Linked DNA regions of Homo sapiens. The protein of the gene in region 1 interacts with the protein of each later gene in a biochemical or structural test. Each region holds a gene or a part of one and is shown in the gene's direction. Other genes may lie near its edges.

The links. Proteins that work in one complex are often made in the same cells at the same time.
Region 2: the proteins of FAF2 (region 1) and ELAVL1 form a complex in vitro, tested with the Homo sapiens proteins (one study listed by BioGRID).
Region 3: the proteins of FAF2 (region 1) and NF1 form a complex in vitro, tested with the Homo sapiens proteins (one study listed by BioGRID).

The regions. Positions count from the first base shown.
Region 1 is NC_000005.10:176,507,385-176,510,574, forward strand, and holds the end of FAF2 (FAS-associated factor 2), read left to right. Parts: 3' UTR 1-2,690; downstream 2,691-3,190. UniProt on the Homo sapiens protein: Plays an important role in endoplasmic reticulum-associated degradation (ERAD) that mediates ubiquitin-dependent degradation of misfolded endoplasmic reticulum proteins.
Region 2 is NC_000019.10:7,967,642-7,974,641, reverse strand, and holds part of ELAVL1 (ELAV-like protein 1), read left to right. Parts: intron 1-763; coding exon 764-917; intron 918-6,851; coding exon 6,852-7,000. UniProt on the Homo sapiens protein: RNA-binding protein that binds to the 3'-UTR region of mRNAs and increases their stability.
Region 3 is NC_000017.11:31,223,977-31,230,976, forward strand, and holds part of NF1 (neurofibromin), read left to right. Parts: intron 1-1,118; coding exon 1,119-1,274; intron 1,275-2,458; coding exon 2,459-2,708; intron 2,709-3,241; coding exon 3,242-3,315; intron 3,316-3,546; coding exon 3,547-3,630; intron 3,631-5,048; coding exon 5,049-5,489; intron 5,490-5,858; coding exon 5,859-5,998; intron 5,999-6,283; coding exon 6,284-6,406; intron 6,407-6,865; coding exon 6,866-6,949; intron 6,950-7,000. UniProt on the Homo sapiens protein: Stimulates the GTPase activity of Ras. NF1 shows greater affinity for Ras GAP, but lower specific activity. May be a regulator of Ras activity.

The DNA.
Region 1 (3,190 bases):
CTGCCTCTGGGGAAGAGAGGGAAGAGAAAGCACAGAGCAGAGAAGCAGAGATGTTCCTTGAACTGCCCACAAGTTTTCAATAACTTTTATTTCTGTTTTGTAATGACCAAAGGAATGAGGCTGACATAGGTATATATATATATTTTTTTCCTTTATTTGATAAAGAGCCAATTCTTTAAACCCATGAGTTTATGCCCTGGGCTCCTTAGCCCACAATAGTGTAATAAAAGTGCCCCGGGCTGGTTTGTGCTTATTTCTGCCATTGTCCCTCTCACGTTCCCAGAGAGGTCATTCTTTTTGGTCCAACTCTTGCTGTCCTTTCTTACCACCTGTGCACCCCACTTGGAGCAGTGGGAGGAAATCTGGGTTTGTGGCCCCACAAAGGCTGTATATGTAAAGATACACCTATGTATGTGGTGGAACTCACCTTTACACACAACTGCAGCTTTTCCTTGGAGTCTGTACCAGGTGGTGGTTATGGGGTCTGAACCAAAGGATAGCAGCTCTTCATTCCTCTTCTGACATGTGCATGCTGCTCCCCCCAGCCCTGGGCTTTCCTGAATTGCCAAGCCTGGTGCCTTTCCAAAGGACTAGCAGGGCCTGTGGTGGAGCCAGCAGAACCACAGGAGAGTGCCCTGCCTGTCTCAGTGGAAGTGTATTATTGTTTTAAGGATAGAACCAGAGGCCTTGAAGGGAGCCAAGACAGAACTCCCAGCCTGTGTAATCTATTGGAAGGCACATTTTCATTTCTGATGCAGCCACCTTCTGGAGGCAGCTTTTATCCTTTCTCTCTATTGCTATGTTGAAGTAATAGGGTTTTTTTTAACCTCTGGATGTCTCGTCTGTGGTTGAGTTTATGGTAATGGGTACATGGGTCAGGCCATGTATTAACAGATGCCAGTGCGCTCTGACAAGTATTCCAAAGTGTTCTGTAGCTAGACTGGTGCAGGCTCGTTGTACCACTGCAACCGACTGACGTTACTGTAGTTCCTAGAATGCTGTGAGGGCGGGGGGTTCAGATCAACATAAAGCCTAACTTGCTGGAGTTGTAGTCTCAAGGCTTTCTCTCTTGCTTAACTAAAACCTAAGGACCACTGTTTTTGGTAGCAATTATATGGTTACTATCCACTGCAGTCCTCAGTTGTTGGGGTAAATCCCACATGGCAGAGTAAGGCACCCCACAGAAATTAACTTGGAGAGCCTGAGAAATTCCCAGTGGCCTTGGCATAGCTGTCTAGAACACCATCTCTAGGAAAATTTAATTCTGTCCCTGGCCAGCTATTGTTCTTCCACTTCGTTTTCTGCTGTCCCAAGGCCAGATGAGTGGAATCACCATCTGACTGCTGTCAATAAAATGTATCTGGCGTGAACAGCAGGATAACCCATGTTCTCCACATAAGGATAACCTTACGTGAAACCTTCCTGCTGACAACCATGCAGAGGAATTTTTCCACTTAAGTCAGAGCCTTCCTCCCCATCTGGAATTCACAGCTGTTCCCTGGCAGCACACAGGAGGGTATTAAGGACCTTTGTGAGGCTAGGTACACTGTCCACACCTCTTTGGGGAAGTTACGATTTTTTTTTTCCATCATAATTCAGTCTCTTCTTATTCTACAGTGTGCACTTTATGCCTCTCGCCTTTTGATAATAGTTGTTCAGTGAAGGAAGTCAGCTGCCAGAATATTAAGAAGGGTCTCCCTTTATGTCAGTACAACTGTTAGGGCGGCCTTCCCATTTACTTTAGGTTTCAAGAGGATTCACCGGAAGCACATGCCCCGGTCTAGTCCCATTTGAAACAGTTCTGCTTTACTGAGACCCTAGGCCGGTCTCCTTGCTGACCCTAGCGCTGCTGCCTAGGTGCCATTTCCTTTCCTCCTCAGTCAAATACAGGCTGCACATTTTGTCACTTAATGCCAGTACAATCTGTGTTACTCCTAAGGACTTTTGGGATTTTGATGAGACCTGCGAGGGAGAAGACACTGAGAAGCCAGTGATCTGCAAGCATTTGCTCTTGTTTCCACATCACCTCTGGGATATTTCAGCTGTTGTTTCCAAATGGCAAATCATCAACTAAAAGCACTTGTTTCAAGTTTTGTTCTGCACTCCCACGACTGAAGTTGTAGATTGAGCTGAATAACCATGGGAAGTGACCAAGCAAAGACACTCGATTGGAGTCAGTTGAATATTTGTACCCTCAGTGGAGCCCTTCTGGTCTTTTCTTCCACTTCTGCAGAATTTCCTCTAGCAAATACTTCTTTCTCCTTGCTTGCCTCCACCATGATATTTGAATAAGAGATGGCCAGAGGATAACACTTGTCTCTTAAAAACTAAGCTAAAAAGAACCTAGAACCTTCAATTGAGCAGTTGTGAAAATTGCTAATGGTGCCAAGGCCAAGCAAAGAGTTTCAGAAAATGACTGAGAAGGAGCGATAACCCCCAGAATGCAAAATCAGGGGCATCATTATCCGGTGCTTGAACAAGGAGCTCCGCTCTACAACTGGTTTTTTTAGGACTTGTGAGGAACACAGCAACGGAAATCCATCCACAAAGGATGCAGTGCCCCAACTTGTACTGCGCCTGAATAGTCATGTGATAATTTACTGAAGAAATCTAGTGTACTTTAAATTTTTTTCATAAAAGTTTACATTGTATTGTAGGTTAACATTAAATGTTTTATAGCAAAAACTTCATAACAGGCTGTGGATCTTTCTGTGTGGGACCGATGTGGTAGATAATTTTCTATGTGTGAAGGAGAGGTTGAAAAACACCGGGAGGGAACAGCATGGCATGGCATTGCCAAGAAGGAAGGGAGAGTCAAAGAGAAGGATGGAGTTAGGTCTTCTCTGTTGTATCCCTGTGGAAAAATAGCAACTTAGTATGATGGAGAGAGAGAGCAGACAGGCCTGGGTTCAAATTTGGGCTCTCTAGTTTGTCAGGTTTGCAACCTCGGGCAAATTCTCTAGCTTCCCTGAACTTGAATTTCCCCAGCTATAAATGAAGATAATGCCGTCCACCTCAGGATAGGTTTATAGATTCAATCAAGTAAATGTATATGAGGCTCCTGATATGTAGATGTCATTAAGTGTTTGTTCCCCTTCTATGGGAGTGTATTTTGTAAGAATATTTTCTTGGAATAACATTTTCTTAAGGAATTTGTCACTTTTGTTGGAACCAACTTGTGTCCTTGCAA
Region 2 (7,000 bases), on another chromosome or scaffold:
AGGCTGCCCCTTCACAGGCAGAGGGGTTCCACTGTGGTCCTTTTCTTCCTTCTGGGCCCATGGGGTCTGCACGGCCGTCAGCGCCAACCTGAGAAAGCACCGAAGACCTTGTCTTGCATTGGCCTCCGGGCTCCCCTCACCACCCTCTCCACACGAATGATGAATGTACCATTTTGTCAAAGCACCCAGAAGGTTCTCTTCAGTTTTCTTTGATTTTGCAAAATATAAATCCAAAAGGCATTGAGTCGTTTAATATTGAACACTTGAGTGGATTTGAGTACAAACTCGGGGTCCTCCCAGAACTCACAGCCCCTGTCAGGGCTTCTGTGGCGAGCTTGCTCTTTGGCAGGGGAGTCTCCTGTGTTCCCAGTAGCTCCCAGCTTGCTTGCCCGCTGCAGCACGGGCTGCTTTCAGGCACCAGGACCTCTCTGGCACCGGCTCACTGTCCAGCACATCAGAGAGGTAGCCACACACAAGCTGCGGGCCCTCAGTTGCTGGGCTTTGTGACATAGGAGTCACGCCTGCCTCCTTGAGGATGGTGAGCACCCAGTGAGGAAGCACTGCCAGGCATCCTGGCTCACGGCCCATCCCTCAGTGAGCTTGCCACCATGCGGCTGCAGGCGGTGAGCGTCAGTGATGATAATCGTTCCCTGCATGATTTCTAACACACAGTGTTGGCTTTTCCTAACCCAGCATTCAACACCCTCCTCAATGCTTTGGCCACGTGCCTGTACTAATCTCGGAAAGTGGTTGTGTTCCCAAGGTGTCGTATGCTCGCCCGAGCTCAGAGGTGATCAAAGACGCCAACTTGTACATCAGCGGGCTCCCGCGGACCATGACCCAGAAGGACGTAGAAGACATGTTCTCTCGGTTTGGGCGGATCATCAACTCGCGGGTCCTCGTGGATCAGACTACAGGTACCAGAGGGGCCCCAGACGCGTGGGGAGGGTGTTCTCTAGGTGGGGGCTGGGTTTTCTAGGGAAGGCAGATCACCGTTTGATTTTAAATGTCATTAGTTATTCCGCAAACGAGGACAGCACCAAAATGAGAAGACGTTGGCTTTGGTTTGAGGAGGCTGAGGAGGTAAGATGGCATTAAAAGAAGCTGGGGATATCTGGGCGTGGTGGCTCACGCCTGTAATCCCAGCACTTTGGGAGGCCAAGGTGGGTGGATCACGAGGTCAGGAGATGGAGACCAGCCTGACCAACATGGTGAAACCCTGTCTCTACTAAAAATACAAAAAATTAGCTGGGCATGGTGGCGGGCGCCTGTAGTCCCAGCTACTCGGGAGGCTGAGACAGGAGAATGGCATGAACCCGGGAAGCGGAGGTTGCAGTGAGCCGAGGTCTTGCCACTGCACTCCAGCGTGGGTGACAGAGCGAGACTCCGTCTTAAAAAAAAAAAAAAAAAAAGCTGGGGATTAGGCCAGCATTTCATGTACAGTGAAAACGCCAAGAGATTCTAGCACCTTCCCTCAGGCACCCAAATGTGCTGGCCTTGCCCATGAATGGGGTGAAAAGGACACTGCAGGCCGGGTGTGGTGGCTCACGCCTGTAATCCCAGCACTTTGGGAGGCCGAGGTGGACGGATCACCTGAGGTCAGGAGTTTGAGACCAGCCTGGCCAACATGGTGAAGCCCCATCTCTACTAAAAATACAAAAATTAGCCAGGTGTGGTGGCAGGCGCCTGTAATCCCAGCTACTCGGGAGGCTGAGGCAGGAGAATCGCCTGGACCCCAGGAGGCGGAGATTGCAGCAAGCCGAGATTGCGCCACTGAACTCCAGCCTGGGCAGCAGAGCGGGATTTCATCTCAAAAAAAAAAAAAAAAAAAAAAAAAAAAAGGATACTGCAGCCAGGTGCGGTGGCGCGGGCATGTCATCACAGCTGCTCAGGAGACTGAGGTGGGAGGATTGCTTGAGCCCAGGAGTTCACAGCTGTGGTGAGCCGTGATCGCGCCACTACACTTCAGCCTGGGCAACAGAGCAAGACCCTGTTTCTTAAAAAAAAAGAAAAAGAAAAAAAAAGGCTGCTGCACATTTGTCCACTGTGGCTTTCGTTGCAGGCATTTGGGGTGCAGTAGTCTGATGGCCCAAATCCCCAGAATTCGGATGCCCCTCTCTGGGGAGCACATCTAAAGTGCACAGAGCACATGGCAGCGAATTCCTCTAATGGGCAGGCAATCCTGGCCACTTTGCTGGCCCTCCCAGTCCGTCTTGGCACTGGATGTGGGCTCTGGGCTTTGTGTGATGCCGTCAGGCAGAGATGAGCAGGGGACATGTGCACGCCCACGGCTGTGCTCCGGCCCTACTGCCTGGCCCGCCTGCCGCACTAGGCTAGGAACTAGTGCCCCACCACATCCTTTGCCAAGCCCTGCACGTGGCCCCGCCTGGGGGACAGGGAGCTCGGGCCACCCTGAGGGGATTTAGGATCGCTCAGCTCTGTTTGGGGCAGGAGCAGGAGTCTGCTAACTAACCAGCAGGGAAGAATCCACTCCCTGAGCCTAGTGAGGCCCATGCGTTGTATGGGTGGTTTTCATATTCTTCCCACACAGACTGTGTGTGCCGCACCTTGGCTGTGATGTTGAAATAACACCGAGTAGTTGGGCCACAGAAAGTCATGCTCTGAGGTGACCTCTTTTTGAGAGAACAGCAGCACTCCCCCAGCAGCCCAGAGCCTCGCCTTTCATGTGCACACAGGTGGGGCCTTCCTGGCCTGCAGGCTAGAGGGGCATGCACATTGTCCTGCGTCCCCTGAGCTGCGTGCTTTGGGGTGGGCGGCCTTATCAGTCTCTCTTCCTCCTCCTTTCCGGCTGTAGGAACCCCACCTGGCATGCACTGGCCCTGCCGCTGCCGGCCTTCGTTCCCGCTGGGGCCCGAGGAGGGGAAGGGCCCCTTTGCACTTCATGGGGGCCCTGGGAGCTTCCTGTAGCCTAGCACAGACTCGCGCCCTGGCACCGGGCAGTGCCGAAGGACAGGGCTCACTCGCACGGCCGCCGCCATTCTGCCTTTGCTCTGGGGAGAGGGTCGGGGGATGCCAGTTACTCGGTGTAAACTCCCCTGGTCTGCACCAGAAGAGTCTCCTGTGGTCCCTGAAGTCCTCTCACTTAAGTGCCAGCTGAGCGAATGATCCTGTCAGTGGGCCAGTGTGTGGGTTTATTGCCCCCCATTCTGCACTGGGGCATCTGAGCTGGCTGTGCAGGGCCCAGGGCCGGGGGAACCAACCTCACTGGCCCACAGTCCACTCCCCTCCTCCTCTAGACCCCACATGCACTGCTCTGCCTCGGCCTGTCTGTGTCCAGTATGGCCCTGATGAGGGAAGCCTGTGCTCCACTTGGAGCCCCCAATGCCTGAGAACATGCCTCCAGCCACCCAACTCTCTTGGGGCCTTCCCTAGTCTCTCAGGCACACACGGGCCACAGGCAGGGGGAACTCACCTCTGCACACAGCTGCTGGGGGCATTGCTTCCTTTCCCTCTGCAAGATAGTGTCTCCCAGGGTGTTGGGGGCACCTTAGTATTGCGCCCCCAGGGTCGGCTGTGAACCTCAAGGTGGCCTAAGGAACCTTTGTCATCTTTGCAGAGCAGTGAGGGAGGCAGAGAGAAGGGAGCCAGGAGGGTCTCCCGGCTCTGCTTCCCACCCCAGGATGCAGAATTGGTGGGAAGGTGAGGCTCCCATCCCAGGGCTGTAGCTCCCTCTGCTGGAGACAGAGTGTGTGTGGCAGGCCAGCCTGTGTGGAGTTTGCCTTCCTGTGACGGGCTTTTTAGTGTTAAATAGATGAGGATGGCCGGGCGCGGTGGCTCACGCCTGTAATCCTAATACTTTGGGAGGCCAAGGTGGGAGGATTGCTTGAGCCCAGGAGTTCAGAACAGCCTGGCCAACATAGCGAGACCCCCAACTCTTTTTTTAAAAAAAGAGAAAAAAAATCCCACCCTGAGCTGACAGAGCTTAATTTTTTGTATTCCTTCGCTTCTATATCCACCTTAATTGTGAACTTTATAGTGTATTCATCTGGAGATTATGCCGTTTCTTGGACTCTGCTGTTAAATTCTAAAAAACACAAGGGGGCCGGGGGCCGTGGCTCACGCCTGTAATCCCAGCATTTTGGGAGGCCAAGGTGGGTGGATCACCTGAGGTCAGCAGTTCGAGACCTGCCTGGCCAACATGGCAAACCCCATCTGTACTAAAAATAGGCCGGGCACGGTGGCTTATGCCTGTAATCCCAGCACTTTGGGAGGCCAAGGTGGGCGGATCACGAGGTCGAGAGGTCGAGACCATCCTGGCCAACATGGTGAAACCCCGTCTCCACTAAAAATACAAAAACTTAGCCAGGCATGGTGGCAGGCACCTGTAATCCCAGCTACTGGGGAGGCTGAGGCAGGAGTATCGTTTGAACCTGGGAGGCGGAGGTTGCAGTGAGCCGAGATTGCACCATTGCACTCCAGCCTGGGCAAAAAGAGCGAAACTCCATCTCTAAATAAATAAATAAAGTAAAATAAAATAAAAATTAGCCAGGCATGGTGGCAGGCGCCTGGAGTCCCACCTACTCGGGAGGCTGAAGCAGGAGAATCACTTGAACCGGGGAGGTGGAGGTTGCAGTGAGCTGAGATCGTGCCATTGTACTCCAGCCTGGGCGACAGAGCGAGACTCCATCTTAAAAAAAAAATTAAAAATAAAAAACACTAGGGGAAGAAAAAAACAAAAAATGCAGAGCCATCTTCAGAAAGTATACATCCATTAAATAATTGAGTGAATTGATATCCCCCTCTGCTAAACAGCATCCCTCCTGCCCCCCTTACTAGAGCTTTCTTCCTTTCACTCAGGCAGTTTGCATTTGAAAGCCACTCTACAACCCCAGACGAGGAAGCCACACTTGCACACGTGCCTTCTCTCCGCTGGGCCGCAGGGTCTTTAGAAACAGAATGAAGCCATCTGCTTGGAGCCAGCTTCCCTACGAGCCGGCCAGCGTCAGCTCTCAGTCGTATTTGCCTAAAGTTCGATTTTCATTTAGGTTTCCAAGACTGACTAAGCTGTCATTCGTGTCGTGAGAGACTCAAAGAAAACAGCATCTGTCAGGGTTGTGTTTTCAGGTGTTCCTTCTGAGCAGCAGCTCAGAAATGAGCTTGAGCCCCAGAATATTCCTGGCACGTGTGCGTAGCGCTAGGTCTGACCTTACTAAAGCTGCTGTCTCTGTGCTCACGGGGGGCCTGCAGTGTCGCGATTGTGGGGGCAGCTGGCGGGACCCTCTGGGAAGTGGTGGAGTAAGGTGCCGTGTGAGGCGTGGAGACAGGACATGGGGACAGTTGGGTGCCCGCTGGACAGGTCACCCAAGGCCCCGGGCTGCCTGGCTTTGGTCGTTGTTTGTTACCATGCACCAGAGGCCTTTGCCTGGAGAAGAAACCTGACTTAAGACACCCTTTGACTGGAAGTCTTTCTTTTTCCTTAAGAGGTGAGATCTTACTGTGTTGTCCAGGCTGGTCTTGAACTCCTGGCCTCAGGCGATTCTCTTGCCTCAGCCTCTGGAGTAGTTGAGACCACAGGCATGAGCCTTGGCCTGGCTTGACTAAAAGTCTTGAGAACCAGGGTGTTTGGGTTGGGCTGTCTGTGACGGCCTCTCCCACTGGGACACACCCGTGACTCCCGCCTAGTGATGTCACTCTCAGACTGGCCTCTCAGCTGTCACCTCTCCCACCCCTGGGCCTTCCCCTGACTCCATCATGTCCTTGCCCCCAGAGAAGGAGCTAGTGCGCTGCTCAGTGTGCCCTCATCCCCATCCCCCTCATCCAGTTTCCAGCCCGCTTCCCAGGTTCCTCAAGGGACGGGCTACTCATGTTTCCCTCCCGGGCCTAGTGTATGGACAGGCAGGGGTGCAGGACAGCCATGCTCTCCTTCCACCCGCCTTGCTCAGCATCTCACACCCATGCCCAGCTGACCAATGTCCCCCATAGCAGGACGGTCCTCAGGTCTCACACTGCTCCGTCCAGGGATTGGGTTTAGCCGGGAACCCGGGACTGGCCCTTGGGTGGCTCAGTTGAGGTGGCAAGAGAAGATGCCCTCTGGGCTTGGCTGCTGGGGCCCTGGCCCTTCCCATACAGGGACCCCAGGCCTGCCTGGCGAGCCTGTGGATAGGTTCAGCTCTGCTGTATGAGCCTGGGCAGTGTTCTGGCCTCATTTGATTCTGATGGCAATTTGGGGCCCACGGGAGGGGTGTAGGACCTTAGAGTGGAGTATCCCAAGACAGGAGTGAGGTGACAGCAGCAGCATGGAGCTGGCAGGGGGTGGCCACAGGACCCTACTCCCTCCTGGCATGAAGGAGAAGGCATGCAGGCTGAGCTGGGCACCTTTGCAGCAGGCTCGGCCACGAGGCCTGCTGTCACAGCGGGCCCAGAGACAGCAGCCAGGAGAGTGGCCCCTGAGCCCAGGGAGGATCTCTCAGACGCAGTCCCCACTCCAACCCTGTTACCCACCAACCACACACCACACCCACGCACCCACTCTGTGGCGGACACCTGGCAGCTAAATAGTGACGGTGGATGTGCTGTTTCCTAATGTTGCTTTCTTCCAAATAAGAGGCCTGGGTGTCTATTGGGGATGTCTGTCACCAAAATATCTTTGGGCGCCAACACTGTGGAGTCATGGCTTCAGCCGGGAAGAAAGTCTGAAGCTTTAATCTTCTGTTAGTCATTGGTTTTCTTTACTCCATCCATTTGTTTTCACTTTTAGGTTTAATTTTTGTTTATTTCCTTAACCAGACTTCTAGCCTGGCCCACAGTAGACTGACCTGACTTTTGCTTTTCAGTTTTGAAAGTCCTAGCGTTTTTCCCCCTAACTCCGTTTTTGTTGATTTGTTGAAAAGGTTTGTCCAGAGGGGTTGCGTTTATCCGGTTTGACAAACGGTCGGAGGCAGAAGAGGCAATTACCAGTTTCAATGGTCATAAACCCCCAGGTTCCTCTGAGCCCATCACAGTGAAGTTTGCAGCCAACCCCAACCAGAACAAAAACGTG
Region 3 (7,000 bases), on another chromosome or scaffold:
TGGGAGTACTTGATTTAATGGGTTTTTGTCCAGTTCTAGAATCATAGCTCTGAGAAATCGTAAAGACCTAGATCTCATGGCTAGACTAGTCCAGAGAATTATCTATCAAGAAGCAAAAGGGAAACAGTTGAGGGTCCTCAATCTAGATTTATTTCGATTCCTCCAATAAGGGTTTCACCTCTTGAAAATATCAGGAGACTTTTTCATTGGGGTGGAGTGAAATGTTTTGATTCTGAACTATTGAAACATGGTGAGGTTGTGGAAGATAGAGAAGAGCCTTAAATTTCTTTTAACATATAGTTTCTGTAATTAATCAATTTAGGAATTCTGTTATGGCCTAGTTTTCGGAGTACTTGATTTAATGAGTTTTTATCTGGTACTAGAAGCATAGCTGTGAAAGACCTTAAATGTATGAAACTCATATCCTTTTCAGTATTTACAGCTTGTTATTAATAAATTGTCTCTTTAGAAATAGACTAATGGTGAAGTGGGTTTATTCACATGTGACTTATTTGATATGTTAATGTAGTGGAATTTGGCATTATTCCAAAGATACAGAAAGAGATTAGACTTCAGACTTTCATGGCCTCGCCTATGGTATAATCTCCAGAATGTGAGTATGAGGAATCCAGTAATGAATTCATAGTGCCCTGGTAGGCATAGTCACTCTTGTGACATACTTGGTGTATATACATACCAGAGTTAATTACTGGTCCAGAAGAACTTAATCTCAAGAGCCAATTTCTGGTTATCCCAACATGGCACAGTATAAAATCTTATGGAAAAAAAATCTTTGTCATTGAGATCAAATTATAGTTTTCATACAGTAGATTTATATTGTTGATGTTTTACTCATGTTTATGTCAGACTTAATTTATATTTGTAGAATCTACTGTTTCTGATGATTTAGAGAATGGGAAACTGAAAGAAATTTTAAAGAATTAAGTAAACCTTGTTTGTTCTAATGGGTTTCTAGTGAATCTCCTTCAAGTTGGGGCATAGAGATTGAGAGGAGAGGTTTTTTAGGAGAGTCTCAAACAGGAAGACAACTCAAATAAGTGTTTATTCCTCTTGGTTGTCAGTGCTTCAGTAAAGCTTATTTATTTATTTTTTTCTAGCAGGCAGATAGAAGTTCCTGTCACTTTCTCCTTTTTTACGGGGTAGGATGTGATATTCCTTCTAGTGGAAATACCAGTCAAATGTCCATGGATCATGAAGAATTACTACGTACTCCTGGAGCCTCTCTCCGGAAGGGAAAAGGGAACTCCTCTATGGTCAGCTTCTTCTGTACTTTTTCTGTATCATTTTATGTGCTCTGTTTGTTTTCTGAATGAAATTTGGTAAATTTCATCTAGGTAATATAGTGTAATAGTGAAAAACTGCTTAGAATCTAGTTCTATTACTGCTCTTTGTGGAACTTTGGGCAAGTTCTTAACATCCTTGTTCCTCAGTTCCTCAACTTTAAAATGGGGACAGTAATAGTTCCTGCCCCAGAGTTGTTAAAGAGGGTTAAATAAAAGGATGTGTAAATAGCACTTGACACTTACAAGCTATATCTGATAATTATAATTATTATAAACCTCCACTCCATAAAAAACCCATTCATACCACAGAAGTATAGAATTCGTACCGGCTAACAAAGGTACAGATTTACAGGGATAAAAACAAAGTATTTTGCTTCATGTTAAAGATAAGTGTTTCTGTGATTTGTGTTTGTGTGTATAATTTCTTTTAAATATAAATCATATTTCAAGTGAAAATATCACATCATTACAGAAGAGTTTATTTTCCAAACCAAAACTTTTTTCATTCCTAATTTTTAATGCAACCTTGTTAAGGAAGAAACACCTAAGCAGTATGATATTTACTAATGTCTGTTTTACTTGTAGAATTTGCATTTATTTTATCAATTATTTTCTCCATTTCGTGTTTGGAGAATAAGTAATTCAGAATCAAATGTATCTTCTACAGCAATATTTAGTTCTTGTTTATGCCCTTGTTTCAATGAGTGCTGCAGTGTACTTATTTTATTACTTCCCTATAGCAAGTAGATAGAATTTCCTGTTACTTCCTCTTTTTTTGTCATTTCTAATTGACTGGGAGGTACATTATATTGTTACTGCAGTAGATTTACGTTATGGTGTTTACCTGTCCATGTTAGAATCAGTTTACATTTCTGGAATCTGGAATAGGATAATATCTATTTGATTTGAAATTGAACAGATGGTAGCATTATGTTGGTCCAGATAATCTCATTTCTCATTTGGACAAGATATTTTGGGGTTTGAAAAATTCCTATAATGATTAAAGGAAAAAGCTCTTGTGAGTTATTGTATGCGGAGACACACACACACACACACACACACACACACACACACACACAGTTTATTGCATTGTTAGATTTTATACATAAAATTACCCAAGTTGCAAATATATGTCTTCCACCCTTGACTCTCAGGATAGTGCAGCAGGATGCAGCGGAACCCCCCCGATTTGCCGACAAGCCCAGACCAAACTAGAAGTGGCCCTGTACATGTTTCTGTGGAACCCTGACACTGAAGCTGTTCTGGTTGCCATGTCCTGTTTCCGCCACCTCTGTGAGGAAGCAGATATCCGGTGTGGGGTGGATGAAGTGTCAGTGCATAACCTCTTGCCCAACTATAACACATTCATGGAGTTTGCCTCTGTCAGCAATATGATGTCAACAGGTAAATGTGAATAGTGGTTTTTTTTACTCAGTCTGCCTCAAAGCACATGGCATCTGATTTTGAGAATGTATTTAAGGTCACTACTTTGTAAGTTTACAGGGGAAATTCAAGTAGCTTACTTGAAATCCTTTTCTGAACAAAGTAAGATGAAAATAAAAAGCATTTGAAATAAATTGTTAGTCTTCCACTGAGTTGTTAATATGCTATACATTTTAAAAATAACTGGCAGTAGATGTTACTATCAGTTATGATTATGTAATTTACTCTGCCTAAGTTGTAGATAGTGAAGTTTTACAAACATTGGCGTATGTTTTGAGTAAATTGTAGGTGGGAATAGCTATTTTATTCTGTGGACATTGTAGAGTCCAAGATAAGTACCTTTCCTGTGAGGTTAGTGAAAGGAAGTTTTTGGCTTTATCATTTGAAGCATTTGCTCTGCTCTTCCTACTCCTTTTGGGTGGAGCTTATCAGGTTCTCCATTGGCAGGCAGGGCTCTAAGTGCAGTAACTTGATTTGCTGTTGTATTTGCTTAGGAAGAGCAGCACTTCAGAAAAGAGTGATGGCACTGCTGAGGCGCATTGAGCATCCCACTGCAGGAAACACTGAGGTATGCCCTTAGCAACAGAAACACCCCTCCCAGGCGCCCACCCTCAATTTGGAAGCCTCTTGTTACATATGTGTGATCAGGAATAGCTTTTGAAGTAAATCCAAGATACGTGCATATTACAAGTATAATATCTGAGTATTTAATATACATCAAGTTTGAAACTTGGCTGTAGCTGATTGATGTTTAGCTCTAGACTAAGTTGCTTTCAAGTGATAATTGCCTTCATTTTAGGCTTGGGAAGATACACATGCAAAATGGGAACAAGCAACAAAGCTAATCCTTAACTATCCAAAAGCCAAAATGGAAGATGGCCAGGTAAGTCTGTAAAGTTGACTTTTGTCTGTTAACTGATCTGCTAAATATATGTACTTCACTTTGATAATCTTTCAAGAGTCGCTCAGTAAAGTAAACATATAGCTGTGTGAAGACTGATATTTAGTTGTGGTTTATCTAGACCTGTACTTTGTAATGTGGTAGCTACTAGCTATGTGTGACTATTTAACTTAAATTTTAACATAATTAAAATTAAATAAAATTTAGTTCCTCAATCATATAGTAACCACATCGCAAGTACCAGTAGCCACATATGACAATTACTTACTCTATTGGACAGCAGAGAGAGAAAATGTTCCTGTCATCACAGAAATACTGGGCAGCACTGCTAGAGACTGTTTGTTGCAGAGACCATTTCTTTACCTTTTCTTGCTCTTTCTCCCTTCATCAGGGTGTTTCACAGAATTTTCAGAAAAGGAGCAACAGAGGTAGAGATAAATTAACATGGAAACAATTCATTTTGCTATTTTGTTAGGTATTCTAATTAAGGAATGTCTTAGGCAGTAGATTGATCCCATAGAGTAAATGAAATTTTAAAATGTGGACAGTTCATTCAACTATTACTATTGACTATATTATCTGTTACTTTGGAAATTAATGATCAGTTAGTGTTTGTGTGTATTTGATTTGTAATGTTCATATTGCTCTCATTATTAGGTGATTTATAAAAACTGGTTGTTCCTCCATGGTGTTTTTGTCATGCTTAATTACAATAGGAAAAAGTTATATTTTTACGAAGCAAATGTGTGTACCTAATACCTTTATTTGGAGGGGACATGTAGCTTTAGAATGAAAGCTTTTGGGGGGATAACTGTTTTATATAATTACATACCATACAGTTCACCCATTTAAAGTGTCCAATTCAGTGACTGTTTTTAATGTATTCACAGAGTTGTGCAACCATCACCACAATCAAGTTTTAGAACAATTTCATCAATTGAGAAAAAAACCCCGTACCCTTTAGCTATCTCTGCCTCTAACCACCCCCCACCCACTTTCTTGCCTCTCTTCCCCCAACGTCTCTAGCCCTAGGCAACCATGAATCTACTTTCTGTCTTTGTAGATTTGCCTATTCCGGATATATTCTGTAAATGGAATTATAGAATATGTGGGCTTTTGTGATTAGCTTCTTTCACTTAGCATGATGTTTCCAAGGTTCATCCATGTGAAATCAAAACTTTTTAAAAGAAATTTGACACTCGGCTGATTATATTAGTGTATGATAAAAATAGATCAGTGGCTCTTTAAAAATGTATATGGTAATTTTATGGGTTGATTTTAATGTATATTTTACATTTTTTGTACTTTTGTCATGGAAGAAATGTTGGATAAAGCATAATTTGTCAAGTCTCAACTAATTAAGGTTTAATTCATGCTTTGCACAAAAATTTTGTGTTTAGGCTGCTGAAAGCCTTCACAAGACCATTGTTAAGAGGCGAATGTCCCATGTGAGTGGAGGAGGATCCATAGATTTGTCTGACACAGACTCCCTACAGGAATGGATCAACATGACTGGCTTCCTTTGTGCCCTTGGGGGAGTGTGCCTCCAGCAGAGAAGCAATTCTGGCCTGGCAACCTATAGCCCACCCATGGGTCCAGTCAGTGAACGTAAGGGTTCTATGATTTCAGTGATGTCTTCAGAGGGAAACGCAGATACACCTGTCAGCAAATTTATGGATCGGCTGTTGTCCTTAATGGTGTGTAACCATGAGAAAGTGGGACTTCAAATACGGACCAATGTTAAGGATCTGGTGGGTCTAGAATTGAGTCCTGCTCTGTATCCAATGCTATTTAACAAATTGAAGAATACCATCAGCAAGTTTTTTGACTCCCAAGGACAGGTAAAGTGTTCTCTTATTTTTCACCTTTCTCTATGAATAGAGTGACTTGTTTGAAATAAGCCTTTTTCTTTCAGATTATTTAAATTAGGTACTCACAGTTTTTAAAAATTTCCAAAAAATTGCAGAAAGAAGAGTCATCTCAATGTAGGGGTCAGCTTGCCTCTTAGGAACTCTGGTGTGTATGTGTGCCTAAGGGTATACGTGCCCTGTGTATGGGTACGAGTGTCTGCGTATATCTGTATGCTTATTTGGCTCTATGCCTGTGGGTGCACTTACTCTGTGTGTTTAGATCAGTCAGTTTCATCTCTCTAGGGGGTCTGTCTTCTGGGCATTGATGGCAAATCATTAATGTATTTGTTCTTTCTTTAGGTTTTATTGACTGATACCAATACTCAATTTGTAGAACAAACCATAGCTATAATGAAGAACTTGCTAGATAATCATACTGAAGGCAGCTCTGAACATCTAGGGCAAGCTAGCATTGAAACAATGATGTTAAATCTGGTCAGGTAAGCATTCTACTGAAATGTAGCAGAAACATTTTAAGAGATAAGAAAAACCTCTTACACACTGATACTGGTAGTAATTGATAAAATAACTGGCCATTCTTTACTGCACACAAACTAGGGTGTGACAGTAAGGTAGCCAGAAGTTGTGTACGTTCTTTTCTAAATAAATATCTTATTGTTTTCAAACTTACATTTAATTCGTTTTACTTGATGACTAAAGTATTTAGAATGCCTTCTCTTTTGTCTATATCTGATAATTTTTTTATTGTTTCTATGTCTATATAGGTATGTTCGTGTGCTTGGGAATATGGTCCATGCAATTCAAATAAAAACGAAACTGTGTCAATTAGTTGAAGTAATGATGGCAAGGAGAGATGACCTCTCATTTTGCCAAGAGATGAAATTTAGGTGAGTTCTCAAAAGAGCAATGTAGGGTCTTGTAAATCTTAATATGTCCAATGAAGTACAGAAAAAGAGTAGATATGCGGTTATTGGTAGAAAGGAGGACATGAAAAGAGAGCAATTTACATGTTTGTTTTTCTCTACATCTCTTCTCAAATTTCCCTAAGCTTTGTGCCTGTGACAATGCTCCCTTTTTCTAAAACTGTGCTATACTTGAGCTAAGAATTTGATTCTATTTCCAATCTGATACCATAACTAAGGGCCATGATGGAGGATAAATATCCATGTTGCTTGTTCCCTTCTGGCTTTTATGTCTGTGATAGCAGTATCTCTTTTATAAAGTCGTCATGTCACTTAGGTTATCTGGCAAATTATTTGCACTATAAGAAATCTTACGTGACTAAAGGTGTGTGTGTGGCTTCAAAAACATTGTTTGCTGTTTCTCTTTTCTCCACCATTCTATAGGAATAAGATGGTAGAATACCTGACAGACTGGGTTATGGGAACATCAAACCAAGCAGCAGATGATGATGTAAAATGTCTTACAAGGTAAAAAAAGAATGACCTTCAAGTATTAGTGGGTTTTACTGTGAGAGTTAT